2 separate regions of the Homo sapiens genome follow, and region 1 is linked to region 2. The links come from fine-mapping of genetic effects on gene expression. Tissue or cell type: whole blood. Region 2 holds a variant in brackets; the other region holds the start of a gene. All regions are shown on one strand. Distances are between the middles of the regions. Region 1 holds the start of RAB33B-AS1 (RAB33B antisense RNA 1). Region 2 has its middle 28 kb from the start of RAB33B-AS1.

Region 1 (8,830 bases), 27 kb after region 2:
CAAACTTAAGAAAAATCAGGTTGAGACCCTCTATTACTGTCAAAAGCCATTACTCATCTCGGCCTCCCAAAGTGCTGGGATTACAGGCGTGAGCCACTGCGCCCAGCCTCCTTTTATCATGGGACATTAAGATTTACTTCATATCAGCATTTAAGTATTGTTAACTTTATGTAATAGCATTTGGGTTGGGGACTGGTGTGTTTCCAGCTGTACAAAGGATAGTTGTATTAGGTGTAATTATGACATTATTATTGTCTTTATTTGAAGATTATGAATGATCTCAGGAGATATGTATGTGTTTAAGTTGACAAGTGGTGGACTTGTGATGGTTAATACAGTCAACTTGATTGGATTAAAGGATGCAAAGTATCGATCCTGAATGTGTCTGTGAGAGTGTTACCAAAGGAGATTAACATTTGAGTTAGTGGGCTGGGAAAGGCAGACCCACCCTTAATCTGGGCGGGCACCATCTAATCAGCTGCCAGCACGACCAGAATATAAAGCAGGCAGAAAAACATGAAAAGACTAGACTGGCTTAGCCTCCCAGCCTACAGCTTTCTCCCATGTTGGATGCTTCCCGTCCTCAAACATTGGACTCCATGTTCTTCAGCTTTGAAACTCGACTGCCTTCCTTTCTCCTCAGCTTGCATATGGCCTATTCTGGGACCTTGTGATCATGTGAGTTAATACTACTTAATAAACTCCATATATATATATATATATATCTCCTATTAGTTCTATTCCTCTAGAGAACCTGGACTAATAAAGAGAACGAGATAAAAGAGGAAACAACAGAGGCCATGATTGCACTTTTTACATATATCAAATATTGGCAAGTCTGCCATCCTAGCTTCCCATCTGCCTACAAGTGGGCAGAGCCATTTTTAACCTTTCTTACTGTGAACATACTTCAATTCACTTAGAATTCTTGAAGTCCAGGCCAAGCACCTCTAGGGTAAAATTTAGCATTCTGTTTTATCCAGGTGTTCACTAACGGTTCCATATTAATTTGCTTCTGCAGATAAAGTATAAATTCCTCATGGGCTAAAATCACACCTTATTTTGTATCTTCCCCTTGCACCAACCACTAGCATAGTACTGAGTACATAGTTCAAATGCCATTAACTCCACAGTGATCCTACCTATGAAGATATGACTTGAAGAATTCTGAAACTCATTAAGCTAACCTATACAAGGATACTAATTTACTATTTATATACTGAAATTAAAGCCCTAGTATGATGTCTGGGGTTACCAAACACAGTGATATAGTAATTTGGTGGAGGCCAGCAAGGCCAATGCCATACTTCTCAGGGTAACTGGAATTGTGTCTTCAAAGGAGAAGTAATTCCCACTATCAACTGGGAGGTACAGGGTATCAAACTTGTGAGAAGAGCCCTTCTGTAGGCTCAAGGAGTGCCAGTGGCATTCAAGGAGGAGGGAGGGAGAGGATTTTTGTCCCCAAGGGGCATCTAGCAACATTTTGAGACAGTTTTGGTTGGTGGTGGGGTGCTACTGGGATTTACTGGGTAGAAGCCAGGGATGCTGATAAAATAAACATCCTACAATGCACAGGATAACCTTCCACAACAAAGAATTATCTGACTTAAAATGTCAATAGTGCCAAGGTTGAGAATCCTTTCTTTCATAGGCAATCAAGGGAATTCTTTGTCCTCTGTGCTCAGACCTGAACTTAAAGAGTAAAATTATCTAAGAGCTGTTTCTGAGTAAGACAAGTTACGAAATGGGCACTGTCATCAGGAGGTGGCATATCTAGTTAAAAAAAAAATTCAGAAATTGAGTAGTCTTATTTTGTATATAAGATTATCCTTATGCTATTCTGTTTTCTACTTTTTTTTTTTTTTTTGAGACACAGTCTTGTTCTTGTCCCCGAGGCTGAAGTGCAATGGCATGATCTTGGCTCACTGCAACCTCTGTCTCCCAGGTTCAAGCGATTCTCCTGTCTCAGCCTCCTGAATAGCTGGGATTAAAGGCACCTGGCACCACGACTGGCTAATTTTTGTATTTTTAGTACAGATGGGGTTTCGCCACGTTGGCCAGGCTGGTCTCAACTCTTGACCTCATGATCCACCCTCCTCGGCCTCCCAAAGTGCTGGGATTACAGGTGTAAGCCACTGCACCCAGCCTGTTTACTTTTATGTTTTAGAGATGGGGGTCTCGCTGTGCTACCCAGGCTGGAGTGCAGCAGTGCAACTATAGCTCACTGCAGACTTGAACTCCTGGGCTCAAGAGATCCTCCAGCCTCAGCCTCCTGAGTAGCAGGAAGTAGAGGTGTACACAACCACACCCACTTTTTTTTTTTTTTTTTTTTTTTTTTGGAGACAGGAGGTCTCACTCTGTTGCCCAGGTTGGAGTGCAGTTTTGCGATTTCAGCTCACTGCAACCTCCACCTCCCTGGTTCAAGCGATTCTCCCACCTCAGCCTCCCGAGTATCCGGGATTACAGGCATGTGCCACCACACCTGGCTGATTTTTGTATTTTTTGGTAGAGACGAGGTTTCACCATGTTGGCCAGGCTGGTCTCAAATTCCTGGCCTCCAGCAGTGCTCCTGTCTTGGCCTCCCAAAGCGTTGGGATTATAGGCATGAGCCACCACACCCAGGTACTACTGTGTGATTTTAATATCCAATGTTTTTTCTTCTATTACAAAAGTATCTTTACATACTTATCTTACCCTAAGCCATTGAAATTGTTCCATTTTAAGTTGTACTGACAAAGGATCCAAATTTACAGTTTCTGCTCAGCTGTGTAGCAAAGTATTAAGGAAAGGGTTACATGTTCACACTTTGAGGCCAAGTGGTAGTGACTCCAAGGACAAAATGAACAGTCAAAAAACAGGGCTGTATAATCCATCCATTCTTTCCAACAGTAGAATTTCCTCCAATTATCAATTCTGGAGATTCTGGGGTTATTCAATTAAGAAGAGTAGCACATACTTCAGTCACATGAGGACACTCTCAAAATACAAGTTGAAAATACAAAACTCCTCATAACAATGTCAAGTGCCAACAATGATTTTTAAAATTTAAGTAGGGCTGAACTGTGTGTAACTGGTGAAATGTTCAAGTTAACAATCCTTACACACGAAATCTCTCACTTCACTGACTTAATTCATTATTTGCTGAATAAACAATAAACTTCCAGTCAGTAGTCAAGAGTTGGCAATCTAGCTGGTAGGACATAACATATAATCATGAAACAGCAAAAACAGTATTCAAAGATTAAATTAGCAATACCCCAAAATGTGTGTTAGAGTTAGCATAAAGAATTTCTGATGTAGTTTACCAAGAGCTAAACTAAAAAGTCCAGAATACAAAAAACAGGGATGCAATGATGTTAGTTTTTTTCACCATCCTTGAAATTCTCCCATTAACCACAGCTCTGAGTTTTCAACTGCTCTTTGTCCTTAAATCTTCAGATTCCCTCCTTTGAATGGGATAGGTAGAGCAGATTAGAAGAAATATATTCCGAGGCTCTCTAATAGTTTCTGGATGATTAACCTTCATGAAAATAACCTCACAGATAAGTAATTAGGATTTTTCAGCCCATTTCTATAAACTAAGTAAACTTTTTTTCTAGTGAACATAACTTGATATATTAGTGACTGTAGAAAGTCTTTCTACAGCAACAGGAATTATATCAAGGCTTTTGCAAATTCCTGGCAACTCCGGGCATGTTTAAGTTCTACTACTCATCTGTTCTGACTATATTTTCATCTGATGGAATAAGCAGTTCATCTCCTTTCCTAGAACTTTTAGTGCTCTACTGTCCCCCTCACTTTAGTTAAGGTCTGCCATGTCCTCCTCTCCGACAGTCCTTGACTTTCCCAATGGCATATTCATCTGCTCAAACAGATGTCACTGCAAAACAAAACAAACTTTTAACAAAAAGCAATGTTTGCATATTTGGGGCCTTTTGTATGACAATATTGCACGTTTCCTCAGAAAAATTCACGGAGATTCTTTAAGGTTGGGGGTTTAATCTATTGATATTTTCCTTAGGTAGACAAAGACAACCTCTAAGTGCGCTCAGTTAATCTTTAACCGCTACATCATCGTCACCCAGGCACTAAGACATAACTAGGGCATAATGAGTTTTATTTCCACCAGGGGCGCCTAGTAACTACCAGGTTCAACGCTCCCAGGTGGCCGACATGTGATGTGCTCTACTGTTTGGGCTGGGGATATTAGCTCAACAAACTCTGGCCACAAGGATCACGCGGATATTCTTGGGGATGCCTAGCGAAATGCGCTGTACCTAGGCCTCGAACTCTCGCCTGCTCTCCGGTGGGCGGTCTCGAACTCCAGCCTGCTCTCCGGCAGCCCACAGCAATGCGCCTGCCAAGACCTTAGGCTGCAAAACTCGCCACGGCCCAGAGCTCGCCTCCAAGTGCGCCCCGCACAGGGCAAGCTTTCGGCGAGGACTCGCGTCCCACCCATCTAGCCCTGGCCGCTGTCCCAACTCCCGCAGTTCACAGAGGCGGCGGCGGTGAGCGCAGCCGATGCCACATCCTCAGCGGCAAGCTGAAGAAACCTGTCTCCTCTCTGGGGCGACCAAACGATACGTCGATGCCGGAACCGACCCGACGCCGGAGCCGTCGGCTCCGTCCTTACCGTTGCTCTCCAGGTACACGCCCCCGTCAAAGGCGGCTCTGCGGCCCTCTCGCGAGAGAGTGCCCGTGGTACCTCCTTCCTCTCAGTTGTCTGTCTCTCCCCGCCCCCGGAGTGATTGCGCGGCTTCCTCCAGAGGGCGGGAACCTTGGACGTGGCGGGGCTGGGTCAGTCAGGGCGCTGGGCCCAGCCTCTCTGCAGGCTGGCCTTCCGCGCTGCCGTGAAGCCCCCGACAGGTCCCACGCCTGCCTAGGTAGACCGGCGCCAGCCCGAGTGACGCCTGGCGTGTGGCCGCGGGCAGGCGGCTCCGTGCGGCGGGGCGGGCGGGTGCCACACCTGTGCGGGCAAGGGCGGGGCGGGAAGGTGCGCAGGCGCGCTCGGGGCTGGTGGGCGGTGGCTCCTGGGAAGTTGCGCAGCCGAACTGGCCGGCTGGGCGCGCGCTCTTGCGGTGGCGTAATCTCTCAGCCTTTCTGTGTCTCCTTTCCTCCGCCTCAGTTTGGGGCGGGTCGGGGGAATGGCTGAGGAGATGGAGTCGTCGCTCGAGGCAAGCTTTTCGTCCAGCGGGGCAGTGTCAGGGGCCTCAGGGTTTTTGCCTCCTGCCCGCTCCCGCATCTTCAAGATAATCGTGATCGGCGACTCCAATGTGGGCAAGACATGCCTGACCTACCGCTTCTGCGCTGGCCGCTTCCCCGACCGCACCGAGGCCACGATAGGGGTGGATTTCCGAGAACGAGCGGTGGAGATTGATGGGGAGCGCATCAAGGTGAGCGGATGGGGAACTGTTGGGGAGGACAGGGTGACAGGTGTCCCAACCCCACCGTGGGCTGGTCGCTGGCCGTGTGCACGGTGTGTGTGCGCTCCATTTTTTTCTCACGCTGATGAGATTGGAGTTGGGGATTGGAAGGATTGCAATACTGCAAACTTCTAAGGCAGCGTTTCTCAGACTTCATTGTGCATGCGATTTACCTGGGGATCTTGTTTTTGAAAATGCAGGCTATGATTTAATAATCTCGCTGATGATGCAGGTGCAGCTAGTCCGTGGACCACACTTTGAGTTCAGGAGTGTAGGGCTTATCTACCGACCCATTTACTGTGTGTGTCGTGTGCTGGGAGTCAGTCAAATATGAACGGAGGAAAAACAGTGAAATTGCGCGAGAATGGAAAATTCATTTAATCAGTAATAGTTATTAAACATTCATTCGAGCAGTGCCTTAGATGTTGTGGAAGTAAAGCCTATTGCCTTTGAGGAAGTACTTAGGTATTCTCTTGCATACAGTTTTGCTGTAGTAGTTTCTTTATGATACTGATTTTAGAAAAATCTATTTTCCTGCAGAAACATTCTATATGTGATAGTTCCTACTCAGGTTGCCAAAAGCATTTCTCATGATGCCACCTCAGACACACGCCCAATTCTTTATTCCCTTTAAGTCGTTATTTTTGGTCCCTGGGACTGGGGACACTGAGTGACAGTAATAGTGGAGAAGGTAGTATAGGCCCCAGGGCAGGTTTGAAGTTCTGAGGGGTTGGAATCTAACAGTGGAATGAGGATCAATGACAAGGCTTAGGCCTCTTGATGGTATAAACCTTAGACACACCTTCATAGCAAGCCACCACTAAATGCCACCTGTTGATGCCACTCCTTAAAACATAGGTGGAACCACCTTGCCTTATACTACTGCTTTAAATCAGCGATCGTCTTTATCTCAGTCTCTTGGTGGGGATGGGGAGTGGTGGGAGAACAGGCTTGCTTTAGACGTTCCTACCCTCGTATCTTAGAGGCAAGAACAATTTATTTTTCAGTTCCCTAATCATCGCCCCCCACCCCAACGGGTTATACTGCTAATGATGGTAGAGGTGAAGTAAGCTGGGTTAAAAGAAATTAACCTTTCTTTGGTGCTTCTGTCTTTTAATTTTTCACATTAGTATTTCATGTCCCATATGAGCTCTCAGTGGTGGTTTTGGAGTTGCTTTGTATTAGGGAATTTAGAAAGATTTGTATACTTGCAGAAGAAAAGATAGAATAAAAGGCTAAACATTTTTCACCAGAATTAGGTTTGGCCCAGAAGCCTTTGGGGTGAAAAATAATGGAGCTTCTGAAGTTCCAAGGGAGTTAAGATTGGGAGAAGCAGGAATCTGGGAAGTACGTGGGCTTTGGAGCCCAACTAACCTGGATTCATATCTGAACCTACGAAAGGGTAGGGATGGGCTGCGTGTCCTTACTAGGGTGACCAACTTTGCCCAAGACTGTCCAGGTTTTAAAACTGGGTCTCACATCCCGGGGACCCCCTGTATTGGGCACACCAAAATAGTTGGTCACCCTGGACCTTAGGCAGATTCTTTAACCTCTCAGAGTCTGTATTTTTCTTCCGAAAAACTGGGATCATGATACCTTATCAGGCTGCTGTGAGGATCAGATGAGGACATATATGAAGCACCTGGTTCATAGTTGGTGCCTTTAAAAAGATTCTTTGTCTTTCCTGGTGGCTTAACATTATTTTTCCTGTTTGCCACCATTAGTTCTGCAGTTGTACACCCAAAGTTGAAAGCAGAGATAGTGGAGGGCATAGGTAGACAGCTAAGGGGAGAGAAATTTAAAAAACAAAACAAAAACAAAAACGGAAGTAGGAAATTCTTTCAAAAGTGGAGAGAATGAGGGTGGGGGAGGAGTTGGGATTTGAGGGCCCTTTATCTGTTCCTGGGTTGCCATTTATACTTAAAGATAACAGATGAATCAGGTGCAAATTTAAGAGATAATAGTATTGAAAAAATATAAAGCATGTGCAGTGTATAAAGTCAATTACCTAACTACTGAGGTGAGTGCTGGCAGTGATAAATAAGACAGAACCACAGGTATGACGAATCTGGGAGCACAGAGTTGATAATTCTGGTTGGGAAGAGCAAGGAGATGATATTTTTTGGGGAGATTATTTCTACTGAACTTTAGCCTAACTTGTTACATTGATATGGACTTGAATACTGAGATCATTTTTCTTCTAAGGCCCTAGCCGTTGATTTGTGCCACCAATGGTGAGACTTGAGAGAGATTTTTATTGTGGTTGAAATGACTACAGACATGTTCTGAGGTTTCTATAGTAGGAAAAGATATAGCTATGTTGGGCATTTTTTAAAACCACAGAGCTTAATTTTTTTTAGTGCCCTTTTTTTCGAAAACTGAAAAGTGATATAAAGAGCTTTATTCTATGTGCTGCTTCTGCTGCTTTTTGGTTAACCTGTAATACATCTTGAGTGCTGCTGAAATGTTCATATTACGTCTTTGGAAAATTGTAGCCTGATCTAAAATGACATTTTTCCTAATTTTTCATCTCAAAGCTGGAAAGCTCTATTACTTTACTAGTAAAATGCCATTCTAGACATTATTTCTTTGATAAAAATGAGATATTGCGTTAAATGTTTTGATAATCATGGACTAGAAAATTTTCAGAAAGCATGACTTAACAACAGTGCCCTTTCAGAATCCGTTAAAATGTTTTATGAAATTTAAGAAAGCCTATATCTGCTAATCCATTCCTAAGCAGTATGTGCAGGTAGTTGAAAGAGGAAAATCTTGTTTGCAAAATTTTGGAAGTCGAATAAAATTATAAAATTAAATTCCTTAAATACAAATACATTCGGCTTTTAAATTGAGACTCCTAACTCTAATCCTTATGCTCCTTCCTCGTGTGTATATCCCCTTCATGACTAATTGTATTCCTTTAGCACAATCATTTTCCAGTGGCAGACACACCAACCCATTAAAGCCTGGTGTTGTATTTAATCCGGCCTCCCATTAGAGGTCAGCAGGTCCTACTTGAACATTTTAGTAGCTTACTTTTTTGTAGCGGTAGAAATGAAATGTTCCCATGTTAAGTGCAAAATGTTAATATTAACTAAAGGAAAATAATCAGGACCTCTCCCCACACTGGTAAAACAAATATTTAATGAGTAATTGCTGGAAAGAAGACATTTTGATAAGCACAGAGAATTATGATACGGCACAAGGGTCAGCAAACTATGCTTGAGGGCCAAAAATGGTCTTTTGCCTGTTTTTACATGGCCACAATCTAAGAATGATTTTTTACATTTTTTAATGTTTAGGGAAAATATCAAGATTTCATGACATGAAAATCATATGAAATTCAAAATTCACCTAGGTTGTACTACTTTAATCCTTCTTATCCTTGTACTCTCACCCCTCTCTTT
Region 2 (8,830 bases):
AAAACATCAGGAATGAAGGAAGAGCACCAGAAATGGTAAATATCTGTGTAAAAATAGTAGTCTATTCTCCTATTCTCCTCTTAAGTTTTGTTTGTTTTTTAAATTATACTTTAAGTTCTAGGATACATGTGCAGAATGTGCAGGTTACATAGGTATATATGTGCCATGGTGGTTTGCTGCACCCATCAACCCATCATCTACATTAGGTATTTCTCCTAATGCTATCCCTCCCCTAGTACCCCATCCCCCAACAGGCCCCGGTGTGTGATGTTCCCCTCCCTGTGTCCATATGTTCTCATTGTTCAACTCCCACTTATGAGTGAGAACATGTGGCGTTTGGTTTTCTGTTCCTGTGTTAGTTTGCTGAGAATGATGGTTTCTAGCTTCATCCATGTCCCTGCAAAGGACATTAACTCATCCTTTTTTATGGCTGCATAGTGTTCCATGGTGTATATGTGCCACATCTAGTCTATCATTGACAGGTACTAAGTTCTTTAAAAATATATTTGATGGTTGAAAATAACTGTACCATTGTCTAATGGGGTTTTAAACATATGTAGACGTAATTCATGACAACTCTAACGTAAGGGGTACAGGTTAAGTAGACCTATATGTAAGGTTTCTACATTCTACTTAAAATGGGGGGAAAAGACATTCTAAGCAGATTCAAAAAGCTAAATATGTATATTTGCATTATGTGAAACTCATGTTTGCCTCAGGGTCTTTCCAGTTGCTTTTCCTTTTGTCTGAAAAAATATTCCCCTATATATACACATCATTTGCTCCCTCAACTAATTCATGTGTCCGCATAAATGCCACCTCTTCAAGGAAGCCTTCCCTTAACCACCCTCATAAAATAACCACCTCTTCCCATTAGATTCTACCTTTATATTTGATTTTTTCTTCATTCATTTATCATTATCCAAAATTTGATATTTTTGTTAATTTATCTTCCCACTAGCATGCAGGTGATGGTCTGCCTGTTCACTTCTGTATTCCCAGGGCCTAGACCAATGCACTGGTTTTTGTTTGTTTAACCTATCAAGAACTGAGAGAGTTGCATAGAAATTTGCCACCTCCTGTAGTTCTAACATTTTTTGCTGTATATAGCTTAAGTCCATTTTATTAGTTACAAACAGGATTAGAATTTTTCTGTTTTTTTTCTGGTGAAAAAAACCTTTTATCAGTAGGTAATGACCTTTTTATTCTAATAATCTTTTTTTGTCTTAAAATCTTTTTTCTGAAATTAATGTATGTATGTGAATTCTTTGTATTAAGATCTGCCTGGTATATGTTTTTCTATCTCTTATCTTCTACTGTTTTGCCTGTATGTTTTCAGATTCTTGTATATGTCATACAGCTAGATTTTTCTTTTCATTTCAGTCTGACAAACTCTATCTTTTAATTGGTAAATGTCATACATTTATGTTTATTGTGATTCTTGATATAGTTGGATTTGTTTATATATCTTTTTTGTTTATATTTGCCTTGCTTTTTCTGAGCTACTATTTTTATAGCCCCAACGTTTTTGCATTTTTTTTTTTTTTTGAGACGGAGTCTCGCTCTGTCGCCCAGGCTGGAGTGCAGTGGCGTGATCTCGGCTCACTGCAAGCTCTGCCTCCCGGGTTCATGCCATTCTCCTGCCTCAGCCTCCCAAGTAGCTGGGACTACAGGCGCCCGCCACCATGTCTGGCTAATTTTTTGTATTTTTAGTAGAGACGGGGTTTCACCGTGTTAGCCAGGATGGTCTCGATCTCCTGACCTCGTGATCTGCCCGTCTCAGCCTCCCAAAGTGCTGGGATTACAGGCGTGAGCCACGGCGCTGGCTGTTTCTGCATTTTTAAAAAACTGACTTTATGGTTAGATTTTTTAAATTCCATTTTTCCTCCACTGAATTGGAATTCATAGCTCTGTATTTATTCCTTTTTTTTTTAACAACTGTCCCTGCATTTTATAAGTGTCTAACTTAACAAAATGTAAAGGCAAACATATCTTAACTTTCCTTTGAAACGAAGTAATGATCTTAGAATAATTTTAATTACATTGACCCTCCCCCAAATGCCTACTTGCTATTGTTATTGGAGGCATTAGTTCAAAACTTCACAAATCGGACCTTATTTTTCTAGACTGATGTTTGGACTGACAAGCTTGTTCACCATTTTATTCACTCACCATTCTATTTTGTACTTCAGACCATTCTTTTATGATAATTTCCTTTTTTTAAGCTCTGACTTAACAAAGCACTTATATTCCAGGTTTGGTTCTAAGTGCTTTATTTTATATTAGTTCATTTAATCCTCATAACAATTCCATGAATACAATTATTGTCAAAATTTTACAAGTGAGAAAAAAAACTGAAGCACAGAGGTGTTAACTCACTTGTCCAGTGTTCCACAGCTAGCAAATGGTGGAATAGGGATTCACACCTATGGAGTCTCCAAAGTGCATATTCTTAACTCCTGTGAAATACTATCTCTCAACTACAGTCACACATCACTTAATGATGGGATACATTCTGAGAAAGGTGAAATGTGTCCTTACGTGATTTCATCATTGTGCAAACCACAGACTGTACTTACACAAACCTAGATGGTATAGCCTACTACATATTTAGACTATATGGCATAGCCTTTTGCTCCTAGGCTACAAACCTGTATAGCATATTACTGTACTGAATAGGCAACTGTAATACGAGTATGTATTTGTATATCTAAACATAGAAAAGGTCCAGTAAAAATACAGTATTACAGGTTGCGTATCCCTAATCCTAAATCCTTAGGACAAGAAAATTTTGGTTTTGAATTTTTTTTTTATTTTGGAATATTTGCATGATACTTAGTGTTGAGCATCCCTAACCTGAAAATCCAAAGAAATGTTCCAAGGAACCTTTCCTTTGAGTATCATGTTGGCACTCAAAAAGTTTCAAATTTTGGAGTATTTTGGATTTTGGATTTTTGGATTAGCAATACTCAGCCAATATAATCTTATGGGACCACCATTGTATATGCGGTCTGTTATTGACCAAAACTTTGTCATGTAGTGCATGACTATATGTCATTTAGGAGTTTTGTGCATATCTCTGAGCTAAACTCTCAATTATCACTTATCTTTAAATGTCTCTATTTCACTCTTCTTAAAAGGTAGTCTGGGCAAGTACATAATTCTAGTTGACCATTATCTTTTGGCACTTGAAAGGTATTATTCCATTAACTTCTGGTTTCCATTGATGCTGATAATAAATCCACTGTCATTTTCACTGCTGTTCTTTTGCAAGTGATCTGCCCTTTCTAGCTGCTTGTAAGATCTTACAAATTCTGCAGGTTCTTTATACAATGTCATTATACATTTCTGTTTATGTATCCTGCTTTCATTATCTTGTGACTCCCAGATCTGTTAATTCATTTTTTTCATCATTTCTGCAAAAATCACAGCACTATTTATCTAAATGATACCTCTCATTAGAACACTTCTTACCAGTGGGAGGTAAAGGGCAGGGATTGACTAGCAAGGGGCATAAGGGAATTTTCTGAAGAGCAGTATATGGTTTTTTTTGACAGTTTGTGTTACACAGGTATATGCACTTGTAAAAATTTACCAAATATTGTACTTAAGATCTGTGCATTTTATTGTATGTACATTTTAAATACAAAAAAGCTATAGAACAATACTGAATACTAATGATGAACATACTAAAATGTTTAGTGGTGATGTCTACAACTTACTCTGAAATGCATAAAAAATAGGATTGATGGATGGTTAAGTGGATAGCTATATGATACAGTAAATATAACAAAATGTTCTAGAATTAATTGGTAAATGTAAAAGTTCACTGTGTAATTCTTTCAACTTTTCTGTATGTTTGAACAATTTCACAAAATATTAGGGGGCAGGGAGTATTGCCTCTACTTTTTTCCTTCTTTTCTTTCTTTCTGAGATTTCAATTAGTCATATGTGTGACTTTCTTATCCAAGCTTCCATCTCTTAATATTGTTTTCATATTTTTACTTCCTTGTCTCTCCTTAGTATACCCTGGGTAATTTTTAAAGATATCTTCTCATTTATTTTTTAAGAGACAAGGTCTCCCTCAGT[C/T]GCCCAAGCTGGAGCACAGTGGCATAATCATAGCACTCTGAAGCCTCAAACTCCTGGGCTCAAGTCATGCTCTGCTTTAGCCTTTTGAGTAGCTAGGACTACAGGCATACACTAACATGCCCAGCTAATTTTTAAACTTTTTTGTAGAGACAGGGTCTCACCATGTTGTCCAGGTTGGTCTTGAACTCCTAGCCTCAAGTGATCGTCTCACCTCGGCCTCCCAAAGTGCTGGGATTATAGGCATGAGCCACCTCAGTGGCTTCATTTATTAATTCTCTCTTCATCTGTATCAAATTTGCTCTTTAACCTTTCCACTGAGTTTTGTTATTCTAACAATTATATTTTATATTTCTAGAGCATCTCCCCATCTCCCAACTACCTTCCAACCTGTCTGTCCATTCCTGGTAATCTCTTGCTCATCTTTATAACATCCTTTACCTTTTAAAATATTCAGAACACAGAAATTCTATACTTTTCATATCTGTCAATTCCACTACCTACAGTCCTTGGAGTTACACATCTACTGAAGTTTATTTCTGCAGACACTCATAGCAGTTTGGCTTTTTGGTGTATTTTTCTCTGTGTGCTACAGCTTGAATAGCTTCTATTGCTATGTCTTCAAGGTCATCAATCTTTTCTTCTACATTAAATTTGCTTTAAGCTCCTACAGTGATTTAAATTTTTTTCAGATATTGCATTACATAAGTCTAAAAGCTGCATTTCATTGTTTTTCATATCTTCATTTTTTCTTATGTTCATATTTTCTTGTAAATTCTTAATTATATTAGTAATAGCTGTTTTAATGGTTTTTTTTGTGCTAATTCCATGATCTCTGTCATTTCTGATTCTATTGACTGATTTTTCTTCTGGTATGGATCATATTTTGTTGAATCTTCATGTGTCTAGTAATTTTTTATTGTATAGTTGTAACTGCTACATTGCTTAGTATCTTGATGTTGTGAAGTTGTTTCCTTCTTTTACACAGTGTTGAATCCTGTTTCGGCAGGTAGTTTTTTTTTTTTTTTTTTGAAACAGAAGTCATCAATGGTGACATGCTGGATGCCACAGATGGTGGCACTCTGCCTCATGTATGTCTTGACAGTGTGTGCAACTTCTCATCTCTCCAGAAGGTCGGGTGGGTCAGCAGGTCCACGATGTAGGTCCCCATTGTGTCAGACCCCTGCTGCCCGTGAGCTCGTCACAGATCCAGCTATGGCTGGGGCTCAGCAGGCTGCCTGAGTAGATGCAGGTGTCGCAGATCATCATCACTCCTGCGTAGTGCTTCGAGACTGGTTGCTTCACCTGCACACAAAGGCAGGTAGGAAATGCAGCATGTTCCCCACCACGTTCATCAGCTGCAGGCAGTTAACACAAGGCCATCACCATCCAAAAGGCATCCACTGATGTTGCTGTGTTCTTGCAAACCACAGTCTTCCCAATACCCTGATGGACTGTGTATTAGTCTATTCTCACACTGCTATAAAGAAATACCCGAGACTGGGTAATTTATTTATTTTCTCAAGATGGAGTCTCGCTCTGTCACCCAGGCTGGAATGCAGTGGTCGATCTTGGCTCACTGCAACCTCTTCCTCCCGAGTTCAAGCAATTCTCCTGCCTTAGCCTCCCAAGTAGCTGGGACTACAGGCGTGTACCACCACGCCTGGCTAATTTTTGTATTTTTAGTAGAGATGGGGTTTCACCATATTGGTCAGGCTGGTCTTGAACACCTGACCTCGTGATCCACCCGCCTCAGCCTCCCAAAGTACTGGTTACAGGCTTGAGCCACCGCACCTGGCCGAGACTGGGTAATTTATAAAGGAAAGAGTTTAATTGACTCACAGTTCCACGTGGCTGGAGAGGGCTCAGGAAACTTACAATCATGGCCAGAAGGTGAAGGGGAAGCAAGGACCTTCTTTTTTTTTTTTTCTCTTCTTAACCACTTTATTTCCTCCCAATTATTATTATTATTATTATTATTTATTATTATACTTCAAGTTTTAGGGTACATGTGCACAACGTGCAGGTTAGTTACATACGTATACATGTGCCATCCTGGTGCGCTGCACCCACTAACTCGTCATCTAGCATTAGGTATATCTCCCAATGCTATCCCTCCCCCCTCCCCCCACCCCACAACAGTCCCCAGAGTGTGATGTTCCCCTTCCTGTGTCCATGTGATCTCATTGTTCAATTCCCACCTATGAGTGAGAATATGCGGTGTTTGGTTTTTTGTTCTTGCGATAGTTTACTGAGAATGATGATTTCCAATTTCATCCATGTCCCTACAAAGGACATGAACTCATCATTTTTTATGGCTGCATAGTATTCCATGGTGTATATGTGCCACATTTTCTTTCTTTTTTTTTTTTAATTATACTTTAAGTTTTAGGGTACATGTGCACATTGTGCAGGTTAGTTACATATGTATACATGTGCCATGCTGGTGCGCTGCACCCACTAACTCGTCATCTAGCCTTAGGTATATCTCCCAATGCTATCCCTCCCCCCTCCCCCCACCCCACCACAGTCCCCAGAGTGTGATATTCCCCTTCATGTGTCCATGTGATCTCATTGTTCAATTCCCGCCTATGAGTGAGAATATGCGGTGTTTGGTTTTTTGTTCTTGCGATAGTTTACTGAGAATGATGATTTCCAATTTCATCCATGTCCCTACAAAGGACATGAACTCATCATTTTTTATGGCTGCATAGTATTCCATGGTGTATATGTGCCACATTTTCTTAATACAGTCTATCATTGTTGGACATTTGGGTTGGTTCCAAGTCTTTGCTATTGTGAATAATGCCGCAATAAACATACGTGTGCATGTGTCTTTATAGCAGCATGATTTATAGTCATTTGGGTATATACCCAGTAATGGGATGGCTGGGTCAAATGGTATTTCTAGTTCTAGATCCCTGAGGAATCGCCACACTGACTTCTACAATGGTTGAACTAGTTTACAGTCCCACCAACAGTGTAAAAGTGTTCCTATTTCTCCACATCCTCTCCAGCACCTGTTGTTTCCTGACTTTTTAATGATTGCCATTCTAACTGGTGTGAGATGATATCTCATAGTGGTTTTGATTTGCATTTCTCTGATGGCCAGTGATGATGAGCATTTTTTCATGTGTTTTTTGGCTGCATAAATGTCTTCTTTTGAGAAGTGTCTGTTCATGTCCTTTGCCCACTTTTTGATGGGGTTGTTTGTTTTTTTCTTGTAAATTTGTTTGAGTTCATTGTAGATTCTGGATATTAGCCCTTTGTCAGATGAGTAGGGTGCGAAAATTTTCTCCCATGTTGTAGGTTGCCTGTTCACTCTGATGGTAGTTTCTTTTGCTGTGCAGAAGCTCTTTAGTTTAATTAGATCCCATTTGTCAATTTTGGCTTTGGTTGCCATTGCTTTTGGTGTTTTGGACATGAAGTCCTTGCCCATGCCTATGTCCTGAATGATAATGCCTAGGTTTTCTTCTAGGGTTTTTATGGTTTTAGGTCTAACGTTTAAGTCTTTAATCCATCTTGAATTGATTTTTGTATAAGGTGTAAGGAAGGGATCCAGTTTCAGCTTTCTCCATATGGCTAGCCAGTTTTCCCAGCACCATTTATTAAATAGGGAATCCTTTCCCCATTGCTTGTTTTTCTCAGGTTTGTCAAAGATCAGATAGTTGTAGACATGCGGCATTATTTCTGAGGGCTCTGTTCTGTTCCATTGATCTATATCTCTGTTTTGGTAACAGTACCTTGCTGTTTTGGTTACTGTAGCCTTGTAGCATAGTTTGAAGTCAGGTAGTGTGATGCCTCCAGCTTTATTCTTTTGGCTTAGGATTGACTTGGCGATGCGGGCTCTTTTTTGGTTCCATATGAACTTTAAAGTAGTTTTTTCCAGTTGTGTGAAGAAAGGCATTGGTAGCTTGATGGGGATGGCATTGAATCTGTAAATTACCTTGGGCAGTATGGCCATTTTCACGATATTGATTCTTCCTACCCATGAGCATGAAATGTTCTTCCATTTGTTTGTATCCTCTTTTATTTCCTTGAGCAGTGGTTTGTAGTTCTCCTTGAAGAGGTCCTTCACATCCCTTGTAAGTTGGATTCCTAGGTATTTTATTCTCTTTGAAGCAATTGTGAATGGGAGTTCACTCATGATTTGGCTCTCTGTTTGTCTGTTGTTGGTGTATAGGAATGCTTGTGATTTTTGCACATTGATTTTGTATCCTGAGACTTTGCTGAAGTTGCTTATCAGCTTAAGGAGATTTTGGGCTGAGACAATGGGGTTTTCTAGATATACAATCATGTCATCTGCAAACAGGGACAATTTGACTTCCTCTTTTCCTAATTGAATACCCTTTATTTCCTTCTCCTGCCTAATTGCCCTGGCCAGAACTTCCAACACTATGTTGAATAGGAGTGGTGAGAGAGGGCATCCCTGTCTTGTGCCAGTTTTCAAAGGGAATGCTTCCAGTTTTTGCCCATTCAGTATGATATTGGCTGTGGGTTTGTCATAGATACCTTCTTTACATGGTGGCAGGAGAGAGAAGTGCAAGCAGGGGAAATGCCAGACGCTTATAAAACCATCAGATCTCATGAGAATTCACTCACTATCATGAGAGCAGCATGGGAGAAACAGCCCCCATGATCCAGTCACCTCCTATTGGGTCCCTCCTTCAACACGTGTGGATTATGGGGATTACCATTCAAGGTGAGATGTGGGTGGGGACAGAGACCCAAACCATATCAGACC

The links.
Region 1: RAB33B-AS1 starts here. The variant in region 2 is fine-mapped to the expression of RAB33B-AS1 in whole blood (TOPMed, PIP 0.95).

The regions. Positions count from the first base shown.
Region 1 is chr4:139,449,052-139,457,881 of GRCh38, forward strand. It overlaps RAB33B-AS1 (RAB33B antisense RNA 1), which reads right to left and starts at 4,990. Exons shown (of 1, transcript NR_159964.1): 1 at 2,624-4,990. It overlaps RAB33B (RAB33B, member RAS oncogene family), which reads left to right and starts at 5,070. Exons shown (of 2, transcript NM_031296.3): 1 at 5,070-5,393. The coding sequence starts at 5,145. RefSeq lists enhancers at 4,358-4,697, 5,318-5,367 and a silencer at 4,768-5,097.
Region 2 is chr4:139,421,726-139,430,555 of GRCh38, forward strand. It overlaps the pseudogene LOC100421868. Among named protein-coding and RNA genes, the nearest start is that of RAB33B-AS1, 28 kb to the right of the region's middle. The variant C/T (reference allele first, on the strand shown) is at 4,090.